Homo sapiens: one gene and its partners. The protein of the gene in region 5 purifies or fractionates together with the protein of the main gene of each other region. This does not show direct contact. Each region holds a gene or a part of one and is shown on either strand. Other genes may lie near its edges. The genes, in order: KIF13B, DCLK1, TANC2, ZBTB21, INPP5E, NAV1 and KIF1C.

Region 1 (3,500 bases), on a different chromosome or scaffold from region 5:
AATTAAAGGCCCTCCTACCTTATATTCAGCCAGCCAGTGAATAAATACAAAAATCCCATTTGTGACCTGTGTGGGTAGTGGCTTTCCTGGGGGAGAATGCTGGACCTGGGACTATAATAGCAACGGGCAATATGGTGCAGCTACCATAACTTAGCCCTCTTGCAAAACTGGAAATAAGAAAAAAATTCACCAGAGAAGAGTTCACAGAATGGACAGGACTTTAAACAACTTTTCAAATACCAAAAAATAGTCTGTTGCACGAAAGACTACAGAGTCAGCCTAACTAAGGAGAGATGCCAGGCGACATGAGTTCTTCCAGGCGTTGACATGGCTGCCCCAGTGCAGAGCCACACCTTTCAACAAAGCCCAAAAGAGGTTACGGAGAAAAGGGCTGCGGTCATGCTTACTGGGGAAAAATCTTTCAGGTTTCTGCTTTTTTCAACTTATACACTATAAAATCAAAGAGGATCTTGTACTTCTCAGCCTTCAAGGAGAAACTAGGCCCTGAACCTTCTCCTTGTGACTGGCCTTCCTCTTCGGTTTTTGGTGAGTCCTACTGTACCCAGACTTTGCCCTACAAATACTAGTGTTCTAATTAAGTAAAAATTTTCAAAATACACACAGAGTATACAAAAACAATGATCTGTAAAGTAACGATCATATCATATTTACAATACCTTTCTCAAAATACTAAGAATCATATTTGCCAAATATCTAACCCTGTACAAAACGCTGACCTTGATGCTATGATGTCATAGGGAAAGATGTAATCCTTGCTATCAAATTAGAATAATATCCGCCTGTAATCCCAGCACTTTGGGAGGCCAAAGCAGGTGGATCACTTGAGGTCAGGAGTTTGAGACCAGCCTGGCCAACACAGCAAAACCCCATCTCTACTAAAAATACAAAAATTAGTCCAGCGTGGTGGCACACACCTGTAATCCCAGATACTGAGGAGGCTGAGGCAGGAGAATCGCTTGAACCCAGGAGGCAGATGCTGCAGTGACCCAGGATCACACCACTGCATTCCAGCCTGGGTGACAGAGTAAGACTCCCTCTCAAACAAAAAAAAGAAAAATAGAATATCCAAGATGGATTGATTAAAGTTTTGCTGTGTTGACTACCGCAGGCTAAACAGAACACACGGATCCACAAAAAATTCATCTGAATAGAAAATTCTACCTAATCCATCAAAAATTATGTATGAATGTGATCAAGAGCTAGAAAAGAACCTCAAAAAAAAAAAAAAAAGATGAAGGAAAAAAACCCAACTGAATGGCAAAGATAGAAGATTGTGATGGGACTTTCCCCCTACATTTTATTAAATTTATTATACCAAAAAAAGTATGATCCTGAATATATACATGACACCATGACACAACTAATGAGCAGTTTTACAGAGCAAGCTATTCCAAGTAGAAAATAACATAAGCAAAATGAACACCTAACTTGTGGAGAAGGGGTTGTAGAGTGGTAGCATAAGGAAGGAAAAAAAGACATTCGGGGAAGATTAATCAGAAAAGACTTCTAAGAAAGAATTTAAACAGATTTGAAGGAAGAAAGTTGAGTGAAATGAACTGTCAGGGCCAGGTGAGATGCAGAGTATATTCCCCTAGCAGATAAAATATACATACACTCAAAGGTAGAGAATGGAAAAGGAAGTCAATTCTACCCAAAAGCATGGAGGACAAAGGATCTGGACTTGGGGCAGGCACAGACAGGGATCTGAAGCTTAAATAACACCAGGAAATATCAGGCGATCTTATCCAATGAGATCTTTGTTTTTTTCAAGGAACGGCAACCTCACCTTCCTGTTGGCATCCAGGCTGGAGGCTGGAATCTGTAGGGTAACTTTGTATTCTGTTCTTTTATCCAGCTCCTCAGCAATGTAATTAGCTTCTCTCACCAATAGATTGGCCTTAACAATTTGTTCCCTCAGCCTCATCAGGCTGTTATTCAACGTTGCTTCTCTAAAAAAAAATAAAGAAGCGGCAGAGGTAGGGAAGAGATTAACACAAAGCAGCTAGTCAGAAAATCATACAGTGGTAGTACATCATTGCCAAAGTGTGAATTGAGCTTTTTCCGTGGTCGTCTGCACGCAGGGACTGTGTTGCTGACACTGACCCATGCACACGCTTGAACCTCAACTACACGATAAGCACTGGAAAGCAGCCACACAGCAAGCCGGCTGTAGATAACAGCAGTGCCCCTGTATGCAGATCACCAGGGGATCTTCATCAACTCAAGATTCTGTCTCAGCAGGTCTGAGGTGGAGGCCTGAAATCCTACATTTCTATCAATCTCCAGGTAAAAGGGAAGCTGCCTGCCTGCAGACCAAACTTTAAATAGTATGAGGTTAGTGAAGTACAGTCTGCAACCATGGGATAAGGCATTTCAATGCAATGCTAATTAGCCCATACAGAGATCAAATTTGCAATCTGCATCTCATCAGCACCATGCTTTACCTACCTGAGCTAATCAGTCCAGATAACCAACTTTGTTTTTCTAAAAATCATCTACCCAAGCTTCAGAACCTAAAGCATAATACAATGATCAAGTGTACTTCTATATCCAAATCCAAAAGCCATACCAACTGAAAATGGAGCAACACCTAACACCAACAGTTTTAAATAATGCAATATAAATGGGCAATTCCCCTTTTAAAAACAAATGCAAAGTGGTTCTTGGCTGTTAACACTTATCTTTTAACATAATTCTTTTGTAAGCACCATCTTAATGTTCCCATTTGACACTTTCCCTAGGTGTGTTAGAGGTGGCAAGCCTGAGCTATAAAGTTAACAGGCCCCTCTGTGCCGCCTACCTCTCCTCAGCCCACTGTCTTAAGCGTTGCTGAGCGCTGGGCGAGTGGAAAGAAAACCTGTCCATGCTCCGGCAGTTCTGCTTCTCAGGAGACAGCCTTCTCCGGAGCTGCTCCAATTCGTGCTCATACATAAGCCTCTGGCGCTCCAGTGCAGATCGTTTTTCTTCTTCATGCTGTTGTTCTAAGCTGTTTAATATGGACTGCATCGGATCTAAACACATTTTTAAAAAAGATACATGATCGAGAGTTACAACATAATAAACTTCAAATGTTGTTCTATATGGTAATGTTGTCTGTCATCTTAACTATACCACCTAATACTTTAAAGACAATTTGGCATAAACTTAGCTTTCCTGACTTTCAATCACTCATGTTGTTATATATTCTCAGACATATCCTCAACCATCTTCCCTGCAGAAAAAGCAGGTCTATTATATGTTCTACACATAACCTAAGACATGGCGAATCCTCCAGAAATACAATCATAAGCCAATGACAGGCAAGTTTCTAAAGCAGAGAAATTTGACCGGGCACAGTGGCTCACACCTGTAATCCCAGCATTTTGGGAGGCCGAGGTGGGCGGATCACCTGAGGTCAGGAGTTTGAGACCAGCCTGGCCGACATGGCGAAACCTTGTCTCTATTGAAAATACAAAAGTGAGCCAGGCATGGTGGTGTGC
Region 2 (4,080 bases), on a different chromosome or scaffold from region 5:
CTTATGGGTCTATTGCTGACCCCACTGAAGGTCTGGGGAGGGAGAAATGAAGTGTGATTTAAACCTGGAGTGTTAATGAGTTCAGTGTACTTTTTTCCCTCCAAATATGAAAACTATTTCTTGCCTCTTAATAACTCATAGTAGTCAGAATTTGCATTTTTCAAAAACAGTTATATATAGGCAGCTCTGAACTGGTTTCATTGATTTTGATGTTAGATAACTTTAAAACAATGATCCCTTGATATCCAGTCCTGTAGGCATTAGTTGTTAAACAGAACCAATTTTTGTCCAGGATATTGGTAACTGCTCTTACTTTTTAATTTATATGGTTTTAAAGTGAGCTCTCTTGTCTTCTAAAAGGGAGTGTGTCTTGGGGGTGGAGTGGAAGACACTCCCAGTACTCACACCAACTCACTAAGTTCTTCAACATTTTGTAAATTATAAAGGCCAAACTCACTTTTGAAGTTTGTGTTTTATTCTTAAAGGCAGTGATCATTCTCCCAACACTAGGAGTTTGGGGATTTCCTTCCAAATTGATATAAACTAAAAGAAAACAAGCAGGGCCATAGGGAAGGATGGCACAGTTCTGTTACCAGAAAGAGTGCACATCGAATTCTCAGTGACTGACAATTGGCAAAGGCCAAATAATTTGGCAATAGTTAGAATTCCCTGGGGGAACGGGCTTTTAGGACCAAGAATTCCCACACCAGATGAAAAAAGAAGAAAAGAACAATTTAAAATAGAAAAAAGGTTTACTTTGTTTCATTTTATTTGCATATTTCCTCAAACTGGATCACAGGTTCATCCAGGGCAGGGCTACACCTTTTACTTCCCTTCCCTGAATCTGTCCAAAAGTGGGCAATGGTGTCGACAAAAGAAACCATACTCAGAGTGAAATCATTTTCAAGGCTACAGCTACCTCTAAATGGAGCACACTCCACACCCTAGTGTGCTGGTAATTATTCGTGGCAACAAAATAGGTGTTCTTTCCCTCACCTTGGCTTAGTCATACATTTGAACCATGCATGAGCTTCTGAAGATCCACTGGCCTTCCACAGGTTTACACTTTCTGCACAGGAAGGCTGCGAGAACACACAGCTCAATGTTCAGAGACCATAGGTGGCCAAGGGCCTGAGTGCACATGTGCAGTGGCACCAGGATGGTAACCACAGCACCTCAGCCACAGCGACCACAGACACTGGAGGTAAGAAGGGCCACTGGCTCTCATCAGAGCTTTTCCTATAAATCCTGCCATTTCAAGAAACCAACATCCCTGATTGTTCTCGGTGGGATTTCTCACCATTTTGAGGAATCTATGTTCATCCTTCTCTAGATGAGCACATGGTTCTTGTTTCAGAAATTTACACACATATATACCAAGAAAAAAATGGCATAAATGCTACCACATCTAAATAGATGCTGGACCTGGAAGTCCCAAGGCATATTTTAACCGTGGGATTAGGATTCAGGTGGACTGGCATGAAATAAAACGCACACATACCTTCCAGGCCCGTGCACCACCACGGACGTAGACATCACAGGGTGTGTGCATATCTTTTATAATTTTCCTCTATATGACCTCTCTTAAAAAATCCCTTCTGACCTGCATCCATGTGACATTTCATACTTAAAACGCTGTCCTACTTTCCTTTCCCACTGAAAGGCAATATATTTAGGAACAGTCATAAAATGTATTCACGGAACAGCCTGCAGTGTGGTCGCTGAACGTGTGTGCACCGTGCCTGGACACACTCACAGGTGCAGCAGAGAGGGAGCCGGTTTGAATGAAACCTTTCATCTTCTCTCTCACCGACCAAGCATCTCCTTGCCAAATCCAGGAGCAATTCCGCGCAAACCTGGTTTTCAAAAGCAGCCTCTTTTGTGGGGCATTGCGGGGCTGTGCGTGCGCTCCCACTAGGAGGAAAAAATGCCATTTCCTCTCCGCAAGCTTTTAGCACTGCAGGTACTAATTTGAACATGAGGCAGCCTCGCTGTCCCTGAAGGAACTTGAGACCCTGCAAACGTACTTGCAACACCCACGCTGCAGCCACCACCACGCACGAATCGACCCCATCCACAAGCACACATCACTGGCCCGGGCACACGGAAAAGCACACACACAATAAGAGGCCGGGCCCGGCCACTCCTTCCTTGGTTCCCGCTCCGCAGCCAGTTCTGACAATGACAAGCACCTCTCCCAGCTCCTCCGCCCTGGCTCTCCATCTCCACTAACAACGCGAAAAGCCTGGGAGGGCCCGCTCGCCTGACTCCAGGTTTAAAGCCCCATGGCACCAAACAAAAGAGGCAGGTGCCAGCAGCCCCGGGGCCGCCCGCACGCAACGCCCCCGGGTCGGGCCAGGCTGGCCAGGGCAGGGCGGCCGCCTTTCGAGGAACTGCGGGCGGGGCGGCGGGGCCAAGCTGAGCGCCCGCCCTGCCCTCGGCGCCCCGCGGCTGCGGGCGGAGCGGGCTCTGCGGAGTCCCCCGGCCGCCCTCCCCGCAGCTCCCGTCCCCAGGGAAGGCAAACCACGCACCGGTCCGCGGAGAGACGCCGCCGGGGGTCTTTGTGGCCGCGCTGGGGGCCGCCTCCTGGTGCTGTCCTCGCCGGGCTGGGCGCGGCCGGGGCTGCGGGGCTGCAGGGCTGGGGGGCGGCGGCGGGGCCGGGCTGGGCGGCAGCAGCTGCTGGAGCGCGGCGCCTCGGTTGCGGCCACTAGTGCAGGGATGTGCCTCGGCCCGTCCTCATTGAAATGCGGCGCTTCGCACAGCCTCACTCCAGCCTCTCTCTCCAGAGGAGGGCGGCGGCGGCGGCGGCGGCGGGCGCGCTCCCTTTTCTTGTCTCACTCGCTCACACGCCCTCCCGTCTCCCTCCTCCTCCTCCTCCTCCGCGTGCGCGCCCCGTCGCCCCCGCCCTTCTTGGCAGGGCGCACCCACCACGGCTGCGCCCCAGGTCCTCCTCCCTCCCAGCGCCCTCTTCCCACCGCAGCAACCTCGGTGCATCTGGCTTGACTACACCCCTAAACCTCCCTAGTCCCCACAAGTAGTCTTTGGGAGATGGGGGCAGATCAGATGGTGGAAGAGAACGTGGACAGGGCTGAGTCTGAGCCAGGAAGTGTGCAAGGCACAGAGGTGATATGGCCGAGAGATGAGGCCCCCACCGTCGGGGGAGGGAAGGAGGTACCCACACTCATACCTTTTGATGTGACCTCACGGTCTGACACCTTTCCCAGGGTATGGAAGCCAGTGGATCACCTTCTCATCCTTTTTGCCCGGGATGCACCCACGCAGTGCCTCTTCGGATGACCAACCCTCCCAAGCTATGCACTCTGGTGCCCCCCACATTGGGAAGAGCTGGATCTGTTCATGGATCCCACCCATCATCTCCACTTAACCCCAAGACATGAGTCACTCTTGGAATAGTGACCTCTGCTTAGAGTCAAATATGTTCCAAAGGGCCCTTGAGAACTGAAGGGCCAGGTTTCACTGCTGGACACTTTGTGGCTGCCAAGGCTGGGTCTGCGGTGGAAAGCCCCATGAGCTCATGCGAGCCTCTCCTCCCAGAGGGGGAATGTTCTCCTAGCCCAGGCTGTTCACAGCTTCCTCCAGTCTTTGCACAAAAGTCCAGGGAGTGGGAGCAGCTCCCAGATTTCGGTGAAATCTTAGACTGGCTCAGTACGCAGCCTGAATTTTGATCCAGTTAATCTGACTTTCAATCCTGTCGTCCACAACCTGTGTTTGTCCCAAATACACATGAGTATACAAAATACACATAAGTATTTTTCTCTCTTCCTGAGCCTACACCTTTCAATGGAACATTAAAATTTTATTTTTCTCTTGCCCATTGATCCCAGTTATGTGTTTGACTACTTATTATTAAAAAGTTCTATTCTGAAATACTTTCCAAGTATGATGTAAATGTTAAATAATTACCATTTGTTTTAAAACACAGCTCAAATGAGATCCATGCTACATATTCCACAAGTGATGCGATATTTATTTTTGAACTATTTAATAGCCCAGAGATGAGAGTACAGTGAACTCACCAAATTAACTAAATGCAAAGTAGTAAGCCTATTCTTTCACATT
Region 3 (3,969 bases), on a different chromosome or scaffold from region 5:
CCTCTCAGCATGCAGCCTCTAAACACAGCCACTCAAGCTGGCAGCCCACCTCAGCCTTGGCTTTGGTAGGGTGGCTGGATTGGGTGCAGCTTCAGCTACAAAATGAAACAAGAGCTCAGTGCTCCCTGGGTATAGCTAGAGAGAAACCTCTTCCAATGAAGAAAAAGCCCCCCTTTCTCAACAAATGTCACAGGCCTGTGCTGACAGCTCCTTAGAACGGCGTCTCTTGTCCACAGCTCTCTTGAGGGCCTACCACAGTGTCCAACTCTGAGGAGAGGAGGTGCTCAATAACGTGACCGAGCAAATAAATGCACAAAGGGGTGGCTCTGAATGTCCCACAAGAGACCAAGCAAATCATCGGGAATTTGGCCTTAGCCCTAACCTGCCCAATTCCTCCTGAGGGAGGGTGCCCCCATCACTGCATCCTCAGGAGGGTAAGCTTAAAAGCCAGCTCCCTGAAGAGGCTGTAATGGAAGGAGAAAAGCATCACAACACCATGGTTTTCCAAGTGTTAGCCATTTATAAATAAGTACATTTGCTTTCATACATACAGTTCCTTGTACAGATGACAATCTGTATACATGGGGCAGGAAAATGCATTCATTTGAACTTTTCACATCTATCTCACACAGCTCACATGTACAGACAATAAAACTGCTCAAGCAAGTACAGCAAAGGAAAATGTCTTTCCTTATACACAGGGGTAGATGCCTCTGTGGGGTGTGGGGCATCCCCACTGCACGGCTTCACAACTGTGTGGTGTTCAATATATCAGGAGAGAGAACAAACATGCATTGGATAATATACTGTACAGAGAAAGTCCTTTACATCTGAGTCATAGAAAACCTAAAGGAAAACTAAGTGCATTAAAGCTTTTTCCAGCAAGTGTCTTGAAAGGACAGCAAAGAGGAGGAAGAATCAAAATCATATTAGTACAAATCACTCTTTAATTGTAGACTGTACATGTCTGTACTAATTAAAATCATCTTGGATTTGGAGGAGACAGAACAGAGACAAAGATGCTGTGCTAGATGGAAAGGAGGCCACGCCTGAAAAGGCACCTGCCCTGAGCCTGATGAGGAACTGGCCTCACTCAGCAGGAATCAGCCAAAGGAAACAAAAAACAAAACAAAACCAGAACAGGAAGTGTAACTTACAGGATTTCCAAAATCACCTGTGAATGAAGTGGAGATCTGGAGCCGGCATCTCTTAACTTTTTTTTTCCCCCCAGTAAATTGGTATGCAATAAGGCAGGTACATTCAAGTACTGAATTTTCCAGAATTAACTCTTGTCTGGCGCTGGGGACCAAAGGGATTGAGTTGAGCCCCCTCTAACCAGACTTTCTGGTTAGCGATTAGCAAAAGAAAAATTCAGCCAGCAAGTGCTACAAAAACAAAGCAGCTAGGGCACTTCCGTTCCACAGAGTAGGTCTACCTGGAAAAATGAGCGCGGCGCTGGCCTGATCTCTACGCGTCCAGCGGCAGCCTGGCAAGTCAGCTCAGCGTCGGTATCAGAGTCAGCAGGAGGCAATGAGATGATGGGGTGAGGAAACATGAAAGTAACACTTGATTTTTGGTGTCCAATTATGCGTTCATTTGGTACTGACTTTCAAAGCTCTGACTGTGGCCACCATGTGGCCACAAGCATCTCAGGGTGGCTCACCTGCTGTGAGGCTTTGGACACCGAAATGAAGGTTACCAACACTTCAGCCCTTGAGTGGTCTGTATGACAAAAGGAGTTGATGAAAACCCAGTGATTATTCAAGTAGCTCTGCACAGTGGCTCCACCAGCCCCATTGTGCTTGTGTCCAGGCCCCCAGCCAGCCACCTTTTCTTGGGAGCAGCCAGAGCTGAGTTCAAGGCATTGCATGGTGAAGGGTTCCATGACACGTCTTTGCAGGTAGCTCTTGCCCCTAAGCCCTTTGTTCATTGTTGTTAGTCATGGTAGATGGTCGGTCTGGAATTCCTAGAGGAAGAGGAGAAAGAGCTGCACCTCCCAGTGAGCGAGCAGCAGGACCGCACAGCCCTCGGTGTGGAGGCAGCAGCCGGCTGCCTTTGCAGGTCGGTTTCTTGAGAAATGGGCAGCCCAGGAACAGACAGGCAGGGTGTGCGAGGCTGCTGGGCACTGGGAGCATCAAGAGGAGGCTGGGCACAGGGGCGGGCACCTCTTGCCCCCTGGGATAGCCTATTCCATTTTGTGGCAAAGATTCAGTGAGCACTGGTTTTGTCCAAGGCATTTCTGCAGTAGAAAAATAACTCTCTCTGAATCAAACCACCCAACTGTGACGCTTCTGGAGTTATAAAAGCTGGAGGCTGAGAGGAACTGACAGGAGGGAGGCTCATGGGGAAGAAGGGGCTTCTCCATGTACCCATCCCTCTACCAGAGCAAGGGAGCTCTGGTCAACCTTCTTCCAGCCTCTGCCTGGCTGAAGTCCAAAGCATGTAGTGTTCAAAGAGTTCGTCTTGCACAACTGGCACAGATGCACGAAGACCCCTTCCAGGCCTCTGTTGCCTTCTCCTGAACCTCTGAGCCCGCTTGCCTGTTGCCCTGGAAGCAGCTCCTCTCTCCCGAGGGGATGCCGCTGTTCTTTGCTACAAAACAAGCGCAGTGCAGAGCCACAGTGACACCTAGTGGTAAACTATGGTGAAGCACAAGTGACATCCACATAGCCCACTGTACGTGACTAAAATCTAAGGAAAAATACTTATGGATATTAAATTAGATACTGATTAATTTTTAATTTTTTCTATTGGGTACATCTCTGGAATATAAAAATACCAATATTTAGAGAGGGGCTCATAAACTACTATACAATATTAAGGACTGAGAATACCTTTCTCTAAGCTGTTCTGTTTACAATAATTTAGGAAAAGTGTTTAATAATCCAGGCTTAACTACATTAGCAAACTTGTATATCTGGACAACGACCTGGGGTACTGTACATGATTCTAATTAGTGGAATTTTCCTGAGCCATCGAGTTTAAGTTATACACATCTAAAAAGAGGGGCACATGGGGGAGGAGCGAGAAGGGTTTGTGCTCTATTAACTTGGGACTTTAATAGTGCACGTCTGCAACCCGGACAAGATACAACAGCAGATACAAAATGGTCTCCATTTTGTCATGCCAAATTCTCATGTTACACAGGTTTTCCCTTTACTTTGTAAATAAACATTAATTGTTAATTGTTAATTGTGTGCCTTACTGATCCAGTAGATAAAGTAACCGTGTCTCAGGAGTCCCTAAGAACATTGCTGGAAAAGCACTTTAAAATCACTGCAAATATTTTTCATATTAAAAAATTCTTAATCTTTTTGATGCTTATATACAAGTTATTTCTTGTGCTATAAATGTTGTGATCCACTGCTTGATGTCTTTCCTTTCCTTTTTTCTTGAAAAATACACTAAAAGACAAGAGCGGTTCTGCTATTTTCTAATGAAGACATTACTCACACTTAAATATCCAGTACTTCAGTTACAAATTCAAACAGTAAAGTGCACCCATTTATAGACATGATGTGATAGAAACCCATTAGTGCAAGAATCCTGGGCCAATGGAACATACAACTTGGTGAGAAACCTATTAAACTGAAGTTTGTCACCTCTGTCCTCCATTTCAGGGTGGTATGAATTGAGTAAGTTTCATCTGAAACATTTCCTCCCACCTGAAGCCAGACATGGACTCAGCGAGTGTTTGCTGCTGGGGAAGGGGCAGCTCTGAAATACAGTACTCGGATCATTCCATGGCAGTGAAGTAGCAAACAGGGCACAGGGCACAGGCAGTCTGCTTGTAAGGAAAAACGTCTCCTGCCCCAACAAGCTCTGGTTGGCATATTCTAGTCAAAAACAACTGGCATGCAGCAGTGATACCTACTCCCTCTTATGATGGCCAAAAAGAATGGCATTTTGACTGTTGACATTTTAGGTGTTTTGCCCATAGGGTATAGGCCCTAAATCTTTTTGTCCTGG
Region 4 (3,500 bases), on a different chromosome or scaffold from region 5:
GGAGAGCTGATGGTTTCATAACGAGGAGTTCCCCTGCACAAGTTCTCTCTTCCCTGCCACCATGTGAGATGTGCCCTGCACTCCTTGCCTTCTGCCATAATTACACAGCCTCCCCAGTCACATGGACCTGTGAGTCCACTGAACCTCTTTTTCTTTGTTAGTTACCCAGTCTCAGGTATGTCTTTATTAGCATTGTGAAAATGGACTAATTACACCTGGGTAATTTTTTTTATTTTTTATTTTTAGAAATGGGGCCTCACTATGTTGCTCAGGCTGGTCTCCAACTCGTGGGCTCAAGAGATCCTCCTGCTTCAGCCTCCCCAAGTGTTGGGATTACAGGCATGAACCACTGAGCCTGGCCAAGAGACCTTTAAAAATAGAAAAGAATTTGGAAAGCAAAAAATTATTTGCTAATTACTAATGAAAGTGTTTACGCCAGGCACGGTGGCTCACGCTTGTAATCCCAGCACTTTGGGAGGCCAAAGCGGGCAGGTCACTTGAGGTCAGGAGTTCGAGACAAGCCTGGCCAACATGGTGAAATTCCATCTCTACTAAAAATACAAAAATTAGCCGAGGGTGGTGGCATGTGCCTGTAATCCCAGCTACTCAGGAGGCTGAAGCATGACAATCACTTAAGCCTGGGAAGTGGAGGTTGTAGTGAGCCAAGATTGCGCCACTGCACTCCAGCCTGGTTGACAGAGCAAGACGTTGTCTCAAAAAAAAAAAAAACAAAAAAACAAAAAAACAAAAAAAAGATTAGAAGTGTTGAAGAATAAGTTTGTTTTCTTTCTTATGCTATTTGCCTTGCAATCTCATGAATACTATTTTCTTACCAAATCACATTTTCAACAATAGCACAAAGGAAACTTTAGCCTAGTTCTAAATTTAATTAAAGAGTTTAAACTGATATTTCACTGAAATGCTCTTCAAATCTAAACATGAGAAGAGGAGGCCTAGTGGTAGAGTGCAAGCTCTGGTGCCAGACACTTGGGTTGAGATGCCAGTTCCTTGCAGGCTGGCTGATTGTCCTTGGGTGTTTCTGTTAGCCTCTCGGTGTGGCAGATCCCTCACCTGAGTTAGGAATGACAACTGTGCCCTCCTCTTGCAGGGTTGTTGCAAAGAGTTCATCTAAAGAAAACTCAACAAATGTGCACTTAACTTTCAGAAATTGCAGGATTAATAGGCATCTAATTCAGTATCAAAGAAAGTGGGCAGATTAACCCCACCATACTCTCGATGCAGACAAAGCCATTTCATGCAGAGACAATGCCTGACTCTGTGTATTTGACCCTTTATTTAGGCTTCTGTTCCTCTAACACCTCATCCTTTTCATTTTTTTTTTTTTTTTCTAGACAGGGTCTCGCTCTGTTGCCCAGGCTGGAGTGCAATGACTCAGTCTTGGCTCCCTGCAACCTCTGCCTCCTGGGTTCAAACGATTCTCCTGCCTCAGCCTCCTGAGTAGCTGGGATTACAGGCGTGCACCACCACGCCCAGCTAATTTTTGTATTTTTATATAGTTGGGGTTTCACCATATTAGCCAGACTGGTCCCGAACTCCTGACCTCACGTGATCTGCCTGCCTCGGCCTCCCAAAGTGCTGGGATTACAGGTGTGAGCCACCACAGCTGGCTCATCCCTTTCATTTTATAATGCCATATTTTCTTTCAAATATTGTTAAGACATTTATTTTTAAGATTACATGAATCCCAAGTAACTATCTGTGACGGTTTTATCTTTCTCTAGCGGGCAAACTGTAGATGAACCAAACTTGACCCCAGCTCATTTGTAGGTTCTCTTCTGGCCTTTGCTGGTTACCCCAGCCACCAGGCTCTTCAGGAAGAGCCCAGAGTCTCCTAGGCTGTCAACCTGGGAGTGGCCACACACGGTATACAATTCCTTCTGACTCCCTGATAAGATGCGACTCAATTTAACCGACTGAGACACAGGACTTTGCTTCTAGAGATGATGCCTTTAGCCTGTCCACAAACAACTACTTTGGTCAGACTGTACCAAGTTTCTGTCCACTCCCGCCTACCATCCTTTCAAAGTAAATGGTAAATTTTAATTCCTCTATTTTTTTAAAAAATTATTCTATTTGTGACTACTTGATAATTTCCCTTCCTTTTTCTTCTCTTAGTCATTTAAATTTTCCTTAATCCTACTATACTTTCTTTACATCTATTTGTATGAAGAAACCCTTACCATCTTTTACAGAGATCAGCAGAAAAAGACATAAGCTTATAATGTTACACGTATTGACTCAGCTGGGTACTGAGGAGTTTTTAGCACTAATAATTTTTGACAAAGCTAGTTCAGATGTTGCCACAGGGAAAAGCTGTAACACAGAATTAAAGGTACAGATTTAAAGGCTTGGATAGTCTTTGTCAAAAGGGGTTCTTAAACTCAACTTGGTGGTTTAAAACTAGCAATTAAAAAATAAATGACTAGGACAGAGTAGAAAATATCAGAATGCATCAAATGTCATAAGGCTAATTATGAGCTTGAGAAACTTTTGTTTCTATTATATATATGTACATACCCACATAAGCAAGCATGGACTGGATTGAGATGTAAAATGTATTCCTTCCTGTGGGTCAGTCAAAATATTTTGAGAGCCACTGTTCTAGGCTAACCAACCTCTTTGAGCCTCAGTTTACCTCGCCATAAAATAAGGATAATACTAGCAGCTACCACATAATGCTATTGTGGGAATTAAATAAGATAATAATAGTCGCTACCATTTATATAGCACCTAACTGTACAGGAACCTACACTACAAACTATACCAGAAACTTCTCATGTCATTCATTCATCAAAATGGGATCAAAGAAGGTGTGAAGGAGGCGAGGGATGAGCCATGGAGATAAATGGAGGAAGAACATCACAACAAAGGGAGAAGCTAAGGCAACAGGAGGGATGGAGCAGTGTGTGCTGGGAGCCATGTAAGATGACATCTGAGAGGCAATAAGAAGTAAGACCGTCTAGGGCTGGGAGACCTCCAGAAGAACTTTATTTTTTACTATGGATGAAATGGACAGCCATTGAAGATTCTGAGCAGAGGAATGACAAAGACCTGAATTACATTTCCAAAGGATTGCTCTGGCTCTGTTGTTGAGATTAGACAACAGAGGGTAGGTTATGGGGGAAGCTGCGGGCCAGCTTGCAGTCCACTGTAATGACCCAGATGAGAGAGGATGGTGGCTGGGACCAGGGTGGTAGCAACGGAGGTAAAGGCAGAGTCATTAGAATTTCTAGTGGACAGACTGCAGGAGAAAACAGAAGGTGTGGAGTTAAGTATTCTGCCAAAATAACTGGAAGGGCATCCTTAGGAGAGATGGGGTTTGACAGAAAAACCAGGAGTTCAGATTTTTTAAAGAATTCAGTTTTGATATCCTACACGTGAGCAGCAACCTGTTCATCAATGTACCCTTTATGAGCCTCCATCTCCGCCTTACTGTCCCTACTTCCTTTCTTGTGCTTCCTGGGATCAGTTCCCAAATA
Region 5 (3,500 bases):
TGCCCAGAGCCCCTCGAGGAGCTACCAGGGAAACCCCACGACCTGGCCTTGGTGTCTTGCGCGGAGAAGCAATTGCCAGAAGGCCTGGTGGGCCAGAGTTGGGACCTGCCGGGGGCCACAGGCCCCAGTTCCACTTGAGTGGCTCCCCTGGACCCCCGCCGAGACCCCAGTGAGCAGAGCTCCTCCCGCCTGAGGGACTCATGGGCCAGGGAGGTGGGGCCCACCTCAACTCCTTCCCCCAGAGCACCTGTGTGGGCGGCAGCCACCTGCTGTTCCCGCCATGACATGGGGGCCCGGGAGGCCTTGGGGCCCGGCCCTGCTCCGGCTGCCCTTCTACTCTCGCACGCCAACAGTTTGTTACCAAAATCAAATCTCATTGATTTTAAACTCTCCGAGTTGCCACTGGAAAAAAATCTGACCCATGCCTCCCACCCAGGCGTGGAGGCTGCCCGTGCCCGGCCGCCACCCGGGTCTCAGCGCCCAGCAGCTTCAGAGACGGCAGCCCCCGGGCAGGCACTGCAGATCTGTGCCCGGCCACGAACCGGGTATCAGCGCCCAGCAGCTTCACAGATGGCAGCCCCCGGGCAGGCACTGCAGACCCGTGCCCAGCCATGACCACAGGTCTCAGCACCCAGCTGCTTCAGAGACGGCAGCCCCTGGGCAGGCACTGCAGGGCCTGCAGCCGCCCTACCTGTCAGAACAGCCCTCCTGGACCCCGATGACATACAGGTCCTGGGCATAGTCGGCCTCGGCTGGGAGCAGGAACTCGTCCAGGCTGGGCGGGAGCTCCTGGAAGGAGGGAGCATGTGGTGGGCCGGCTCCTCCCGAAACCTGCAGGCGCCTGTGGGTGAATCCCACTGCGGTGCCTTGAGTACCAGCGACTCCTCCGAATGAGGGGAAACTGAGGCCAGGGCCAAAAAGGGAGCTGCCCGGTCTCCGAGGCAGCCTCTGACACACCAAACACGCCTCACGTTGGCCCTCGGCCTGTTTCCCTCTCCAAGCACGAGTCTGTCCAACGACCACCCCTGTATGACCCTCCCGTCACCATGACCCCAGCCCGTGCTGCCCACCCTGTCCCTGAGCCACCCCTACGCGTGCCCCGCTGGCCGCCCTCCCGCTCACCTTGAGCAGGTGATTCTCGGCCAGGCCCGTTGCCCCAACCCCCTCCCCTACTTTCTGCAGCCACGTGGCCAGGGAGGTGCAGGTGGGAGCTCTGGGGGATGGGGGTCCTTACCCACTCTCACCCTCCTGTACTGCGGTTAGCAGTGGGGTGCACCTCGGGGCTCTGCCCTCCTGGCCCCAGGATGAGGCACAGAGCTGCCCCGTCCCCCTCACCCGCCTTTGTCCAGCACCACCCCACCCTTCCCCGCCCAGCACCACCCACAGCCACTCACCTTCTGGCCCTGCATGTTCCAGGTGGCCACGAAGAGTGCCACGTTCCGGTCTGGGAAGTAGCGGGCCAGCTCATCCGCCCCCAACAGGGCCCCGCTGGCCAGGAGGCTGCCCTCCAGGTAACTCCTGTGACGGGAGGACCCCAAGCTCAGGGCCAGGCACAGGACACATCCCTGGGGGTCTGGGCCAGGTCCCCAGGGACAATAGCAAAACCCATGGAATGTCAGGAGCTGCCCCCAGCCCCAAGCAAGGACTCTCCTGGCCCCCGCGGCACTGCTGTCTGCTCTCCAGGAACACAAGGCCTGACCTGGTTGCACAAACACCCAGAGCGGGTTCACACCCCCTCCCTACCTCCCGGGAAGAGGCATGAGAGGGTGACGGTTTGGGCTTTTTGGTGGTGGGATCCTGGAAAAGCCACAGAGAGGAGCTCCCAAACTATAAGCCAAGGCAGTGGGCACAGGGTGCTGTTCGGGGAGGGGCTGGTCCTCCTCCTTTCTCCTTTGGCCCCAGCACCAGGCAGGACGGTCTAAGATACAGAGACCACACGAGCCACACGGAAACGCGTCCATCTCCTCGACACCCCGTGGCTTTGACGCACTTTTGGGTTTGCTTGTTTTGGTTTCTAGTGGGGACAGGGTCTCACTCCGTGCCCAGGCTGGAGTGCAGTGGCACTAACACAGCTCCCTGCAGCCTCTACCTCCCGGGCTCAAGTGATCCTCCTGCCTCAGCCTCCCGAGTAGCTGGGACTCCAGGTGCAGTGCCACCACGCCCGGCTAGTTATTTATTTATTTTTTATTTTTGTAGAAACAGGGTCTCGCCACGTTGTCCAGGCTGATGCTTTCAGATTTTAATACGGCGGTGCACACAGATGGTTAAACACCGTGTGGCACAGCAACGTCCCTGCCCCTCCCCACACTCAGCACCTTCTGCCACGAGGGCTGGTAACCCGTCAAGAGGCAACCGCACACGCCTGCCGCTCCGTGGGACATCCAGTGTCTGTCGCCGTGGGCTCTGCTACGGTGGTGCAAGAGCCACCAGGGGATGTGGACACAAGGGGTGCAGCCGTGTGCCCGAGACGCTTGATTTACAGACACTGAAATCTGAATTTTACAATTTTCTTGTACTATGAAACATCATTAGAATGGTTTTGACTTTTTCCAACCATTTGGAAATGTAAAACCCGTTCTCAGCTCGCCGACTATACAGAAACGCCGTGGGCTAGGCTTGCCAGCCGTCCTCCCCGCTCCCTCTCTAAGTAACACTTGTGCGGCTCCTTCTGGATACGCCGTCTTCTGACATGGTTCCCTTCCGCAAGGGGACACGAGAGCATAGTGCCGGATTCCTGTGACCTCCCGCGAGAACTTCTTCAACCCTGGCTGCGGCTCACCAAGCTTCACTGGACACGTTAAATCATGTCAGCAGGGAGGAACCTCGCTACCTCACCCCTAAAACTGTCGACAATCCCGGTCGGGACAGCTGTGTTCACACAGTGGTCATTCGGGACAGAGAGCGTTCCTGTGGGCACCCCTGTCAAGTGATCCCGGGCCCAGCAGGGGCTCCTCGGTCACCAGGCTGGAGGCCCACGGCCCCTTTGCCGGCAGCGCCCATCATGTCCACACCAGCAGCCACGTGGTCAGTCTGCCCAGCTCTGTCCAGAGCATGGTTAGTAACAGCAGGCCAGGGGCGGCCCTCACAGCCATTCCTGTGTCTAGACACGGGCAGGGGCAGAGCTGCCTCGGACCCCCATCCAGGGCCAGGACACTGCACAGCTTCTGCATGAGGACGCTCAGGCTGGCTGCCACAGCCTGGGCCAGCTCTCCGAGCAAAAGGAACGGGTGGGGAAAGGCCCCCTAACCCGCCCTGGCAGCCCCAAGGCACTGGCAAAAGCCAGCAGCCATTCTCAAACAGGGCGGACCCAGCCCGTGCACACGCGGCCCGCAAACTCAGAATGGGTTTTACTGTGTGGAACGGCAGAGAAAGAAAAAAGAGCGAGGTTCCAATGTATGTCCCTAATAGACTCACTGGCACACAGACGCCCTTTGGTCCCCACTGTCTGTGTCTCCCCCTTGACAGAAAGAGTGCGCCGACTCCTATTCTAGAACAGACCG
Region 6 (2,672 bases), on a different chromosome or scaffold from region 5:
CACTTGTCACCTCCCATGTTAAGAGGGCAGAGATGAGTTATGTTACTACAATTTCATAGGGAAAAGATTGCTTCTTGGACCCTTCAATTTTGCAATGGGGAATAGTAAGCCTATTTACTTTCTTGAAGTGGCCAAAAGAAGTTGAACTTGATTACAACAGCTTCTAATAGGTCAGTTCACTTTTACCCCAAGAAGAAAATTTAGCAAAGTCAAGAGGGTGGTATGTTTTCAAACACTGCAGCAACCCAGATGGAGGACTCCGGAGCCTTGATGTTTGGGCTGGATGTTTTGAGATCCGGTGAAGGATTCTATGTCCATAATGTGCGAGCAGGGGTTCCTCCCACCCCCAACCATGGGAGTCAGGAGACTCTAGCTTAGGGTTTCAGGTTACTTCTGGGTTAGGCAAATGACCACAAGCAGTCTGGCCTTGCCAATCAAGGAATGGGCCACAAGATAAATGGAGACAGAAACCAGGCAGAGAGGGAGCTAGAGAACCAGTGGACAGTACAGGAGATAACTTTATTGAAACGCAAATGGCATTGAACAGATGAATCTTGCTGGGAGGAGACATGCCAGATGGACAGAGGGCCCAGATTGGGGGTGGCCTCAGTGGTGATGAAGGAAGGCCTCTTCAGCTGGCTCTGGCATGAATTTTATTTTTAAATAATTTGTTATTTAAAATGAATTACTGAGGGGACAGCCCGGCTCTCTCTTCATGATTGTTACCGCAACTATATACAACAGTTTGCTTTCCAGATTCAATTTCGCTTTTTCTACATTAGATATAAAAGGGGGTAGGTTGAAAGAGGGGAGGGTCAAATAAAAAACATAAACACACAGACATACACATATCCTGGTTTGGGATTTTGCACCCAATAACTTAAAAAAAAAGTGTTGCAAAAACTTCTGCCCACTCTCCACCTGAGGAACACCATGCATTTGAGAAACACGGACTCTGTCACATAAACGGTGCTGCCTAAAACAGTATGGAGGCGGGGAAGGAAGCTAGCAGGGGTTGGAATTCATTTTGAAAAAAGATTGTTTTGTTAGAAAAAGCAAAAACAAAAAAGCATTAGAAAGTGGGAGCCACTGCACAGCAGTAGCCTAGAGACTGGCTGCGATATGGTAGCTCTGCCTTGATATCATCTTCGTGTCTTCAGGCATAGAGAAATGGCAGAGGAGCAGTAAGACCCCACAGGAGATGGCCAGAGGATCCACCATCAGCCTTCTGGGGACTGAGGAGGTGATCTTAGTGGAATTATTTTATACTCACCTCCCCCGGGGTTTAGTCCTTCCTCCAAACACTTAGTTCCAGGGCGCAGGAGACCTGTTACTAGCACTGTATGTTTCTTTGTGCTTTACCCAAGTTCTCATACAGGGAAAATTGACAAACTTGAAACAAAACCAGTTCTAAACAGCCTCATCTCCTCCATGGCCCAATCAGCTATTTTATGAGTTTGTAAAGATATGAAGCTTTTTTCAGATATTTTTTAAAAAGGATCTTATTTGGCAGGGTGCTGTGGCTCACGCCTGTAATCCCAGCACTTTGGGAGGCTGTGGCAGGTGAATCACCTGAGGTCAGGAGCTCCAGCACAGCCTGGCCAACAAGGCAAAACTCCGTATCTACTAAAAATACAAAAATTAGCTGGGCGTGATGGCGCACGTCTGTAATCCCAGCTACTCAGGAGGCTGAGACAGGAGAATCGCTTGAACCTGGGAGGCGGAGGTTGCAGTGAGCCGAGATCGTGCCACTGCACACCAGCCTGGGTGACAAAGCGAGACTCCTTCTCCAAAACAAACAAACAAACAGAAAACAACAAAAAAAGGATTTTATTCTGTCACCTTGGCTGAGTACTTCTGTATCCAGGTCCTGCTGTGGGGAAAAGAGAGGAGGAGCACAAGGACTGAAGTGCCCAGGTCTGTGTCTTCATTATGCAAGACTCTCCTATGAGCTGAGTGGAGTGTGGATAAGGGGCCTTCCTGGGATACTGGAGCCCTACACTGTTAGCTGCCATACAGAAGGAGGTTCTGGCCTGGTTCTCAGGCCCAGCAGTGCCCTTTATAACTCAAATAAAGGAGAGGGATGTTGCTGGGAGAACACGTTGTCATGGAAATACAAATTAGATTTTTTTTTTTTTTTTTACTTTTTCCATCCTATTACATAATCAGCTCGGAATAGATACAAATAATTCGGCAGAAGAGCAATCTGGAAGAGACCTCCAACTGCTTTTCCTTGTTGAAGCCCCTTTGTGTGCCAGGTAGTAATTTCCAAGGCATAAGGTTTTTCTCTGAAGGTTGTATTCAACTAGGAAAGACACAAACATTCTCCTAACTTCCACCCAAAAGCACACATACCTTTCTTTGTTAAAATCATAAATGGAAAAACAGAAACACAAGGAAGCATGAGAAAGGTGACTTTGAAATTAATGTTAAAGTCTGAATGACAACCTAGAACCTTCTTATTTTGGGCCCCAAAGCCTCTCAGTGTGGGAACTCCAATACTATAAAGGGCTTTCCCTTTAAAACAGTTGAATTTAGTGTGCATCAGAATCACCAGGAGGGCTTATTAAAACGTGGATTGCCGGGTCCTCTCATTAGAGTTTCTGATTCAGCAGATCTGGGATGGGATTGAGAATTTTCGTTTCTAACAAGTTCCCAAAGGCTGCTGATGC
Region 7 (3,476 bases), on a different chromosome or scaffold from region 5:
AAGCATACTGCGCTTACCTGATTGTTTTCATCCTGGTTGTGTTACCTGCCTTCTGGCAGGCTACATCATTGTTCCCAGTCGTTATTTTATTTGTGTTAAGACTGTTTGTTGGCCAGGCGCAGTGGTTCACGCCTGTAATGCCAGCACTGGGAGGCCGAGGCAGGTGGATCACGAGGTCAGGAGATCGAGACCATCCTGGCTATCATGGTGAAACCCCATCTCTACTAAAAATAAAAATAAAAAAATTAGCCGGGCATGGTGGCGGGGGCCTGTAGTCCCAGCTACTCAGGAGGCTGAGGCAGGAGAATGGCATGAACCTGGGAGGCGGAGCTTGCAGTGAGCTGAGATTGCGCCACTGCACTCCAGCCTGGGCGACAGAGCGAGACTCCATTTCAAGAAAAATTAAAAAACTGTTTGTTGCCTGCTTGTTTTAATGTTCTGGCTTGAGGCAGCGAGCCCTTGACTATGCCACATTGCCAGGATTTTGCAGGTTAGATTGTACTACAGCACTGCCTTTGGCTTGCCAGACTCTGGAGTCCCCACATTTTCATCCTGTTCTCAGGAAAACACTTTGACCCACTTGAAGCTCTGAGCTACTGCTTCACAGCTTCCTGGGGTCAGTCTCCAGCCAAAACCATAGATATCCCAACTGCAGCCAAACCACGGCTCTGGGCGAAGGAACGATTAGGTTTACTCTAGGTTTCCACACCCTGATGCTCCTGCCTTTACTTTGACACCTCTGACTGCCAGGTTTTCACAGACCTGTTGACAGTGACTCAAGATCTGGAATGTAATGGATGGTTTGGCAACAGTGTTTGCTTGAGCAGTTTAAAATCTGGCCAGGGAGACTCAATGTGAGCAAGAAAATGATAGAATACCAAGTTTTCTGGAGGTCAGAGGGAGCTGAGTTGAGTGTTACCGAGAATGCTGTGGGGTTTGAGATGAGAAAAATAGCTTGCTAATTTAAAAGACGGATTATTTTTCCCTAAAGACCTTGACTTATGTAAATGTATATTATCCATAATTTTAAAAATCCACTTATGGCTGGGCACAGAAGCTCACACCTGTAATCCCAGCACTTTGGGAGGCTGAGGCAGGAGGATCAGTTGAGTCCAGGAGTTCGAGACCAGCCTGGGCAACATAGTGAAACCCTGTATCTACAAAACATAGAAAAACTAGTTGGGTGTGGTGGTGTGTACCTGTAGTTCCAGCTACTAGGGAGGTAGGAAGATCACCTGAGCCCATGGAGATTGAGGCTGTGGTGAGCTGTGAAGGCACCACAGCACTCTGGCCTGGGCAAGAGTGGGACTCTCTCAAAAAAAAAAAAAAAAAAAAATCCACATATCCAGCCTTCCAAGTCAGTCTTTAATAATGTGCACGGGCCAGGCACAGTGGCTCACACCCGTAATCCCAACACTTTGGAATATTAGGGTGGGAGCATCACTTGAGGCCAGGAATTTGAGACCAGCCTGGGCAACATAGTGAGACTGCCCCCCCCATCTCTACAAAAAATAAAAATCAAAAATAATACTGTGGGCAAACTTTACTTAGATTTTATTCAGAGTAGTGCCTGTTTATTTTTCATCTGTGCTACCTGTGCCGGCATTCCATATGCATTTGATTTAGTCTTTAAAGTACCCCGGTAAAATAGGTCTTTTGTCTGCATTTTTCAGATGGGAAGACTGAGGTTTTGTTTATTTATTTTTATTTATTTATTTTTTGAGACGGAGTCTCGCTCTGTTGCCTAGGCTGGAGTGCGATGGCACAATCTTGGCTCACTACAACCTCCGCTTCCTGGGTTCAAGCGATTCTCCTGCCTCAGCCTCCTGAGTAGCTAGGATTACAGGCGCCCACAACCGCACCCGGCTAATTTTTTGTATCTTTAGTAGAGACAGGGTTTCACTATGTTGTCCAAGCTGGTTTCGAATTCCTGACCTCAGGTGATCCACCCGCCTCTGCCTCCCAAAATGTTGGGATTACAGGCGTGAGCCACCACGCCCAGCCTATTTATTTATTTTTTTAGAATCAAGATCTTGCTATGTTGCCCAGGCTGAACTCGAACTCCTGGGCTCAAGCAATCCTGCCTCCCAAGCCAAGCAGCTGGTACTGCAAGCATGTGCCACCGTGCCTGGCTCCTGAAGACTGAGGTTGGTTTAGATTAATGAGTTGCCCAAATTCAGACAGTTCTTAAGTGGCAAAGTTAGGATTCCAACCCAGGTCAACATAACTAAAGCCCAAACCCCATCTCACCCCTCTAGGCCATCAAGTATTGGCTGGGTGCGGTGGTTTATGTCTGTAATCCCAGCACTTTGGGAGGCGGAGGCGGGAGGACTGTTTGAGCTCAGGAGTTTGAGACCAGCCTGGGCAACATAACAAGACCCTGTCTCTACAAAAATATATAAATTAGCCGGGTGTACTGGCTCACACCTGTAGCTACTTGGGAGGCTGAGGTGGGAGGATCGCTTGAGCCTGGGAGGTCAAGGCTGCGGTGACCTGTGATTGCACCACCAGGAGACCCTGTCTTAAAAATGTATATATAAAAATAAAAAGAACATCAGACATCACCATCACCTCGCTTAGAATCCATGGGGCCTTCTCCTCAAATTCAATCTTCCCAGGCATTTCATGAACTTGCGTCTAGTTTCTGTTCCCTCTCAAATTGCCCAGGCTGTCCTGTGAGTGACAGCAGCTATTTCGTGGGCCTCCTCTGGAATCATGAGAAGTCACCCAAACAATCTCAGTTTTCTAGCTCACTCCGTCTTGACATTTCTACACTGTCATCCTTGGTTTTCTTGGAAATTAATTTGCTTTTCTTCATTGTCTTTCTTTGGAGCTGCTTTCCTTTTGTTGGTTACTATTTTATTTTTAGCTTCTCACACCATACCGACATATGTTGGTTATTCTTTTAGACATGTTTTTTGTTGTTGTTGTCACCTGGAACTTTTGTATCTTGAATAAATTTGGGGATCAAATACATTTTTTCTCCACCAGTCTTATTTATACCTTTCTATATTCAGAGCTTCAAATTTGGTTTGGTTTGAAATTGTTCTCCCCCCAACCTTTTTTTTTTTTTTTTTGAGATGGAGTTTTGCTCTTGTCGCCCAGGCTAGAGTGCAGTGGCATGATCTCCGCTCGCTGCAACCTCCGCCTCCCGGGTTCAAGCGATTCTCCGGCCTCAGCTTCCCAAGTAGCTGGGATTACAGGCATGTGCCACCATGCCCGACCAATATTTGTATTTTTAGTAGAGATGGGGTTTTGGCATGTTAGCCAGGCTGGTCTTGAACTCCTGACCTCAAGTGATCCGCCCACCTCAGCCTCCCAAAGTATTGGGATTACAGGCATGAGCCACCATGCCTGGCCTTTTTTTTTTTTTTTTTTTTTTAACTTTTATTTATTTTCGAGAAGGAATCTCACTCTGTCGCCCAGGCTGGAGTACAGTGGTGCCATCACAGCTTATTACAGCCTCAACCTCCCAG

The links.
Region 1: the proteins of INPP5E (region 5) and KIF13B purify together in Homo sapiens (affinity purification with mass spectrometry, with the first as the bait; one large-scale study listed by BioGRID). This does not show direct contact.
Region 2: the proteins of INPP5E (region 5) and DCLK1 purify together in Homo sapiens (affinity purification with mass spectrometry, with the first as the bait; one large-scale study listed by BioGRID). This does not show direct contact.
Region 3: the proteins of INPP5E (region 5) and TANC2 purify together in Homo sapiens (affinity purification with mass spectrometry, with the first as the bait; one large-scale study listed by BioGRID). This does not show direct contact.
Region 4: the proteins of INPP5E (region 5) and ZBTB21 purify together in Homo sapiens (affinity purification with mass spectrometry, with the first as the bait; one large-scale study listed by BioGRID). This does not show direct contact.
Region 6: the proteins of INPP5E (region 5) and NAV1 purify together in Homo sapiens (affinity purification with mass spectrometry, with the first as the bait; one large-scale study listed by BioGRID). This does not show direct contact.
Region 7: the proteins of INPP5E (region 5) and KIF1C purify together in Homo sapiens (affinity purification with mass spectrometry, with the first as the bait; one large-scale study listed by BioGRID). This does not show direct contact.

What each region holds. Positions count from the first base shown.
Region 1 is NC_000008.11:29,144,571-29,148,070, forward strand, and holds part of KIF13B (kinesin-like protein KIF13B), read right to left. Parts: intron 3,033-3,500; coding exon 2,822-3,032; intron 1,971-2,821; coding exon 1,808-1,970; intron 1-1,807. UniProt on the Homo sapiens protein: Involved in reorganization of the cortical cytoskeleton. Regulates axon formation by promoting the formation of extra axons. May be functionally important for the intracellular trafficking of MAGUKs and associated protein complexes.
Region 2 is NC_000013.11:36,128,583-36,132,662, forward strand, and holds the start of DCLK1 (serine/threonine-protein kinase DCLK1), read right to left. Parts: upstream 2,801-4,080; 5' UTR 2,532-2,800; intron 1-2,531.
Region 3 is NC_000017.11:63,424,235-63,428,203, reverse strand, and holds the end of TANC2 (protein TANC2), read right to left. Parts: 3' UTR 501-3,969; downstream 1-500. UniProt on the Homo sapiens protein: Scaffolding protein in the dendritic spines which acts as immobile postsynaptic posts able to recruit KIF1A-driven dense core vesicles to dendritic spines.
Region 4 is NC_000021.9:41,996,861-42,000,360, forward strand, and holds part of ZBTB21 (zinc finger and BTB domain-containing protein 21), read right to left. Parts: intron 1-3,500. UniProt on the Homo sapiens protein: Acts as a transcription repressor.
Region 5 is NC_000009.12:136,433,346-136,436,845, forward strand, and holds part of INPP5E (phosphatidylinositol polyphosphate 5-phosphatase type IV), read right to left. Parts: intron 1,519-3,500; coding exon 1,395-1,518; intron 790-1,394; coding exon 692-789; intron 1-691. UniProt on the Homo sapiens protein: Phosphatidylinositol (PtdIns) phosphatase that specifically hydrolyzes the 5-phosphate of phosphatidylinositol-3,4,5-trisphosphate (PtdIns(3,4,5)P3), phosphatidylinositol 4,5-bisphosphate (PtdIns(4,5)P2) and phosphatidylinositol 3,5-bisphosphate (PtdIns(3,5)P2).
Region 6 is NC_000001.11:201,824,798-201,827,469, reverse strand, and holds the end of NAV1 (neuron navigator 1), read right to left. Parts: 3' UTR 501-2,672; downstream 1-500. UniProt on the Homo sapiens protein: May be involved in neuronal migration.
Region 7 is NC_000017.11:5,025,426-5,028,901, forward strand, and holds the end of KIF1C (kinesin-like protein KIF1C), read left to right. Parts: 3' UTR 1-2,976; downstream 2,977-3,476. UniProt on the Homo sapiens protein: Motor required for the retrograde transport of Golgi vesicles to the endoplasmic reticulum. Has a microtubule plus end-directed motility.